Linked DNA regions of Homo sapiens: region 2 is linked to region 1. The links come from fine-mapping of genetic effects on gene expression. A gene starts in region 1. The other region holds a variant in brackets. All regions are shown on one strand. Distances are between the middles of the regions.

Region 1 (2,910 bases):
ACAGCAGAGCCCACACCTTCCGCCAGCACTTCTGCGGGAGGGGAGCGGGAGGGTGAAGACCCTTGGGTGGCAGATTGTCCGTGCCACTTGGCTCAGCACAAGCTGCTCGGCAAACGCTCCCAGCCAGGAGCGGGCCTCTGCTCCCCAGTTTCTCAGGGAGCCAGGTAAGGAGGCCTTGGCTATGCTTGGGATTGGTCAGCCCTGGGTTCAAATCCCAGCCCGCTCTTTCCTAACTGTGACCTCCACAAGCATCAATGTCGTCTCTCAAAAGGCCATGAGAACTCGAGCTGGGACTGCTACTGGGTCATGTTTGTAAAGCATCCAGTGGCCGGGCAGACCACCAGACACTGCCATTATATTGGTTCCCTCTCACCCCCAAAAAGGGGCACTTGGGCCACAGGCCAAGAGCTGGGGTGGGAGGGAGGCCTCTGCCTCAAGCTGTTAAGGAAGGAAACATGCAAATAGCTTCGAGCAAAGGAAACTGACGGTTTATCTGCCTGGGCAGCAGCTGCAGCTGAGCTGCGGGGGTGTGGGGCTGCTGCCGAGGAGAGGTGACCCCCTGCCTCCTTGCTCCCAGGACAGTGCCGCTGCAGGGAGGGGCTCCACCCTTGAGGCCTCCTCCAGCTCAGCCCCTCACCCTATTTAGGGCCCTCGGTGGCACTATTTCATGGGTCAGAGGCTGTGAAGCTCTTCCCTGCTGGGAGGTTTGAGCCTTCGACCCTCTCCCACTCCTGTATTTCCCATCTCTCCCGGAGGCAGGGTCTGGCAGAGCCTGCTCAGCCCCTGCCGTCTCAGGCTGACACCCGCACTCCATTCCACTCCCCATACCTGGGTGGGATCCTCCACCCTGACTCCCTTCCCAAGTCTCCCAGGTCTGCCTGGGCTGTCCGAGGCAGGGGCAGAGGCTGCATTCTCCACCCACTGTTGGTCCTTGGCAGCTGCCTGGCAGCCAGGGGTCCCCACCTTGCCAAACTTGACATGCTGCTGGTAGAGGATGCCATCCTTGATAGGGGTCTCCAGAGGGTCCATGGTCACGGCCAGGAGCAGGGCCGCCGCTTCAAGACCTGGGGAGACTGATGACAGGCTGGACGGGAACTCCTCACACTTCCCCTTCTGGCCACTTCCCGTCCCTCCGTCTAGAGACAGCTGCAGGCCGGGGGGAGGGGAGCCTGTCTTCAGCTCAGGGGCTGGGGGCAGCATGTATTTCCTCCCTGGGGTTCTGGCTGCCCAAGGTGCCCACACCTACCTGGAGGGAGCCCCCGGCCACCTGAAGGCAGCCTTCTCACGCACCTGGTTCAGCTGGGCACGCGCGTCTGATCGCAGTCTGGCTCCCCGAGTCATGAGTTCCCGCCCCTCCCCCGTCCCGCCCCGGGCAGCTGCGCACCCTGGGCCTGACACTCCCTGGCCCTGCCTCCACCCAGGACCCTTCTCTAGCCAACTCCTGGCTTTCCCACTCGGCGTCCTGGTTTGAGCGCCTCACCCCATCTTGCTGCTTTTCTTTCTCCCTGAAATCTCTCTCGTGTTCACCTGCTCCTCTCCACCTCACGAGCCACTGAACATCACCAGCCTTTGGCATCCCCCCAGGGGCCACTGCCCCACTGGGCCTCCATGCAGCACTCTCCACAACCCAAGACCAACCTGTCTCTCCCCTTCCTGGGGTGCAGCCCAGGCTCCTCAGCCCAACACTCAGGGACCTGTGTGTTCTGGCCTGCATCTCCCCCAGGCCAGCCCCTCCAGGGCCCCCTCACCACTGTGCTGCCTGGGGCGGTTGGCCACCTCTTCCTCCTGGAGGCCTCCCTTGACCACTCCACGCTGTCCGAGAGCTCAAAGGCCCTCACGGTATACACTCACGCTGGGCATCCAGTCCACATGGGACCCACAGCCCTGAATGGCCCCAACCACGTGAGTGTGGGTGGCAGGTCCCAGGGGGCCCCGGAGAGGTCACATGTTCATTTAAAGCTTTGCTTCCTGCTGGGGGCGCCTTTTGTTGGCTTGCCTAGCAAGATGCCAATAGCGGGGCTGTGTGTATACCTTTATTCTGGAACAGCCTCAGGTCATTCAGCACCACCTCTGGGAGAGAACATGGAAGAGGATAAGGAATGCCATTTGGGAATGCACTTGGCCAGGAAATATGTCCTGAAGGCCTCCTGGCACCCAGCTCTGTGCCCACTGTGGCCCAAGCAGCCCTAAGCTCCGTCCACCTCAGACGCCACATCCTTTGCGTTCTCATCGCCATTTCAACAGTGAGGAAATCGGTGCTCAGAAAAATTAAGTAACTTGCCCAATGCCACATATCAAGTGACAAATATGGCTTGAGCAACCGCTGTCTCACTGGAATGAGCATGTGGCCATACATGCAAAGTGCCTGGCTCAGAGGAAGTGTGGCCGCCTGTGCCGTCCCTGCCTACCTCTCACCAGATGCTGAGATCCTGCCTCATCTGCTAGCGGTCTTGTGACTGCCGTCCACGTTTCTGCGTGTGCGTCTTTCTCTCCCCTCGCCTGACGGCTTCCCAGGCAGCCATCTCCCTGGCCCATCTAGGTCCTCACAGCTCAGCAGAGCTGGGCACAGAGCAGGCTTAGGGAGAGCTTGTGGCCTAAATGGCAGTTCTATGACATCTGCTGCCTCCTCAGTCAACGGAATGGAGGGCTCCCTCCAGGTGGCTGGCACAGGCAGGCAGTGGGTGGGGGTCCTGAGGCAAGAAGCAGCCTCCCAAGGGGCTTCAGGAGAAGTCCCTGAAACATCACAGCCCTGACAGGAAGAGTGGGCCTGAGAGCTATGACAGCTGGCCAGGGAGACCAGAGAATCCAAGCACTTCTCCTTGGCCCGCCAATGTGGTCCCTCCTTGAGTCATAAATTCAGACAACCCAGTGGAGAGACCCAGAGTCCCCAGAGGCGGGCACCAGCTCGGT
Region 2 (2,910 bases), 170 kb after region 1:
ACTAATGCCGCCAAATTGTATATTTAAAATGGTTATAATGGTAAATTTTGTGTTACGTCTATTTTACCAAAATAGAACACACTATGTGCATGGTTTTCTTTTATAAAATTTAAAAGCATTACAGACAAGGCTAAAGGCCCCTTTTGCCACCTCCCCCATCCAGATTCGCAATTCCCCCTTTTCAGTGCTGTTATGTTTATTCCTCTAGAGCTGCTTCTGTGTATTTACCTGAATTCATGTGTACTTACTAAAATTAAATACATTTTTAGCTTTATCGAATAACATATCTGCTCTGGTATAGAGTTGTTTATTTTTGAGACGAAGTCTCACTCTATCACCCAGGCTGCAGTGCAGTGGCACGATCTTGGCTCACCACAACCTCCGCCTCCTGGGTTCAAGCGATTCTCCTGCCTCAGCCTCCCGAGTAGCTGGGAGTAGCTGGGCATGCACGCCACCATGCCCGGCTAATTTTTGTATTTTTTTTTTTCAGTAGAGACGGGGTTTCACTGTGTTGACCAGTCTGGTCTTGAACTCCTGACCTCGTGATCCGCCTGCCTTGGCCTCCCAAAGTGCTGGGATTACAGGTGTGAGCCACCGCACGCAGCCTGCTATTGAGATTTGAAACCATCATTTGTGGTAAAAACATTCTAAATACAAAGCTTCCTGCCTTATTAATGGGGATTTTTTTTTTTTTGGTGGTTATTCATCTTTAAAATATTTTTTCTTTTTTCTATTTTTCATTACATGGCAGGGTCAGTGCCTGCAGACCCGCTTTTGTTTATGCTAAAGCCAGCTAGCTCAAGTTTCTCCCTGCTCTAGGGAACATTCTGTCCCTTCTGTGGGATTCCAGGTCTAATCTTCCAGTTTCAGGGCACTCTTAGCTTTTCCACTGGATTGCTTCAGCAGGCGGCCTCTCAGTTTACATAACTTTATTTAAATCATTTTCTTATACTTTCTCCCTGCTTCCTTCCCATCTTCAAATTTGCTGTGATATCAAGGCCTTTGTAAAAATTTTGTTTCATTCCCTATGTTTGAAGAATCCTCATTTGAGAAAGTTAAAGCAATTGAGAAAGGTTACGAAGCAGAATGTGTAACTCCATCATATTTTGATAACATCTTTCCAGATATCTCTAAATGGCCGATACTCACATGTGCAAAATTTTTACATAAATGGGATCAGACTATGCATATTGCATCACAGTTGGTTTTCTTAAATTAATATGTCCTTATGGTTTTCTGTGTCAGTGAACATGGATCTATAGTATCCATATTGTCTATTGGCTCATATTTTAAAATAGCGTATTTGCTTTTATATAGAAAACCACAAAGAAGCAAGCAAAAAAATATACCACGTTCTCCCATTCTTGGTATCCCTCATTGAACAGTTTGTAAAACTAAAAGAAACATCTTGTGAGTTCAGTAAATTCTTGCTACCAAAACTTACAAAATGAAAAGTGAAAGTTGAAAGC[C/G]ACCCTCTCTTTCCTAGTTCTTCCTCCTAACACTAAATACCTTTATTAGTTTCTTGTAAATCCTTCAAAACATACTTACTTACTACACATACTTATCTGTTCTAACACACCATAAAAATCACACTGTACAGTTATTTACTTTGCCTTTTGTAATTTATCATGGGCATTATTTCCTAACTGCAGGGTAAACATATCTGTCACTTTTTAACAGCTTACATTAAAAAGTCATTTGTTAGGCTGTGCCATAATTTATTTAATTGGTTTTCTATCATGGATATTTTGGTTGTTTCTAGGGTTTTTGTGTATTTTTGTTATTACTATTACCAATTATGTTACAACAACATCTTTGAGCTTCTAAGAAGTCTTGCCAGCATATCTGCAGGGAAATTCTTTTTTTTTTTTTTGAGACGGAGTCTCATTCTGTCGCCCAGGCTGGAGTGCAGTGGCACCATCTTGGCTCATTGCAAGCTCTGCCTCCCGAGCTCACACCATTCTCCTGCCTCAGCCTCCCGAGTAGCTGGGATTACAGGCGCCCGCCACCACGCCCGGCTAATTTTTTTTGGTATTTTTAGTAGAGACAGGCTTTCATCCTGTTAGCCAGGATGGTCTCGATCTCCTGACCTCGTGATCTGCCTGCCTTGGCCTCCCGAAGTGCTGGGATTACAGGCGTAAGCCACTGCACCTGACCCGGGAAATTCTTAAGCATGGGGGACTGGGTTAGAAGATGTGTGTTTTACATATTGATAGAAATTCCCAAATTGTCATCCAGAAAGGTTGCACCAAATAACGTATCAACAAAAGCACTTGGGAGTGCTTATTTCCCCAAATTCTTCAAGCACTGGTTATCAGACTTTTTAGTTGTTGCCAATCCAATAATTTAAGGTTGGTATCTTGTCCTGATTGCCTTTACTTCATTATGAGTGAAGTTATGACACTTTTAAAGTGCTCATTGGCTATTTGTAGCTTTTTCTTTAAACTGTGTTCATATACGTTGACTTTTTTCTCCTATGCTGTTCATCTTTTTCAGTAACAGTGAAATCTATATGAATAGCTAACATTTACAAAGTATTACATTGCTTGCATATTCAACAAGACACCAAATAATGAACATTTAGGATGTTTACAGTATTATCTTGCTACTTTAAACATTCTTGCACATACATCTTTGTACTTTGGACCAGATATCTATCTGTTTAAGTTAAATTTCTAGAAGTGGAATTGCTGATTTAAAGTTGAATTATTTGTCCAAATGTTCCAAAGAGCATTGTGTGATAGGGGAATGGTCCAAGTGAAGAAGTAGGAAAGAAAGGAACTAAACAGTTACTCCCAATTGCAAGGCCAGTCAGCTCTAAATTAGAGTTTAGTTAGCAGGCTAATTGATGATATCATCCTACCTGCTTTCATCAATAAGCTTTGTAAAATCCTAACTCTCTTTCTCTAT

The links.
Region 2: its variant is fine-mapped to the expression of DOK3 in whole blood (INTERVAL, PIP 0.99).

The regions. Positions count from the first base shown.
Region 1 is chr5:177,508,512-177,511,421 of GRCh38, forward strand. DOK3 (docking protein 3) reads right to left here and starts at 1,315. Exons shown (of 6, transcript NM_001308236.3): 1 at 1,247-1,315; 2 at 964-1,146; 3 at 1-31. The coding sequence starts at 1,029. RefSeq lists a silencer at 1,301-1,440 and an enhancer at 1,571-1,720.
Region 2 is chr5:177,676,524-177,679,433 of GRCh38, forward strand. The region is part of intron 1 of LOC107986489 (a long non-coding RNA gene); the gene reads left to right. Among named protein-coding and RNA genes, the nearest start is that of B4GALT7, 78 kb to the left of the region's middle. The variant C/G (reference allele first, on the strand shown) is at 1,470.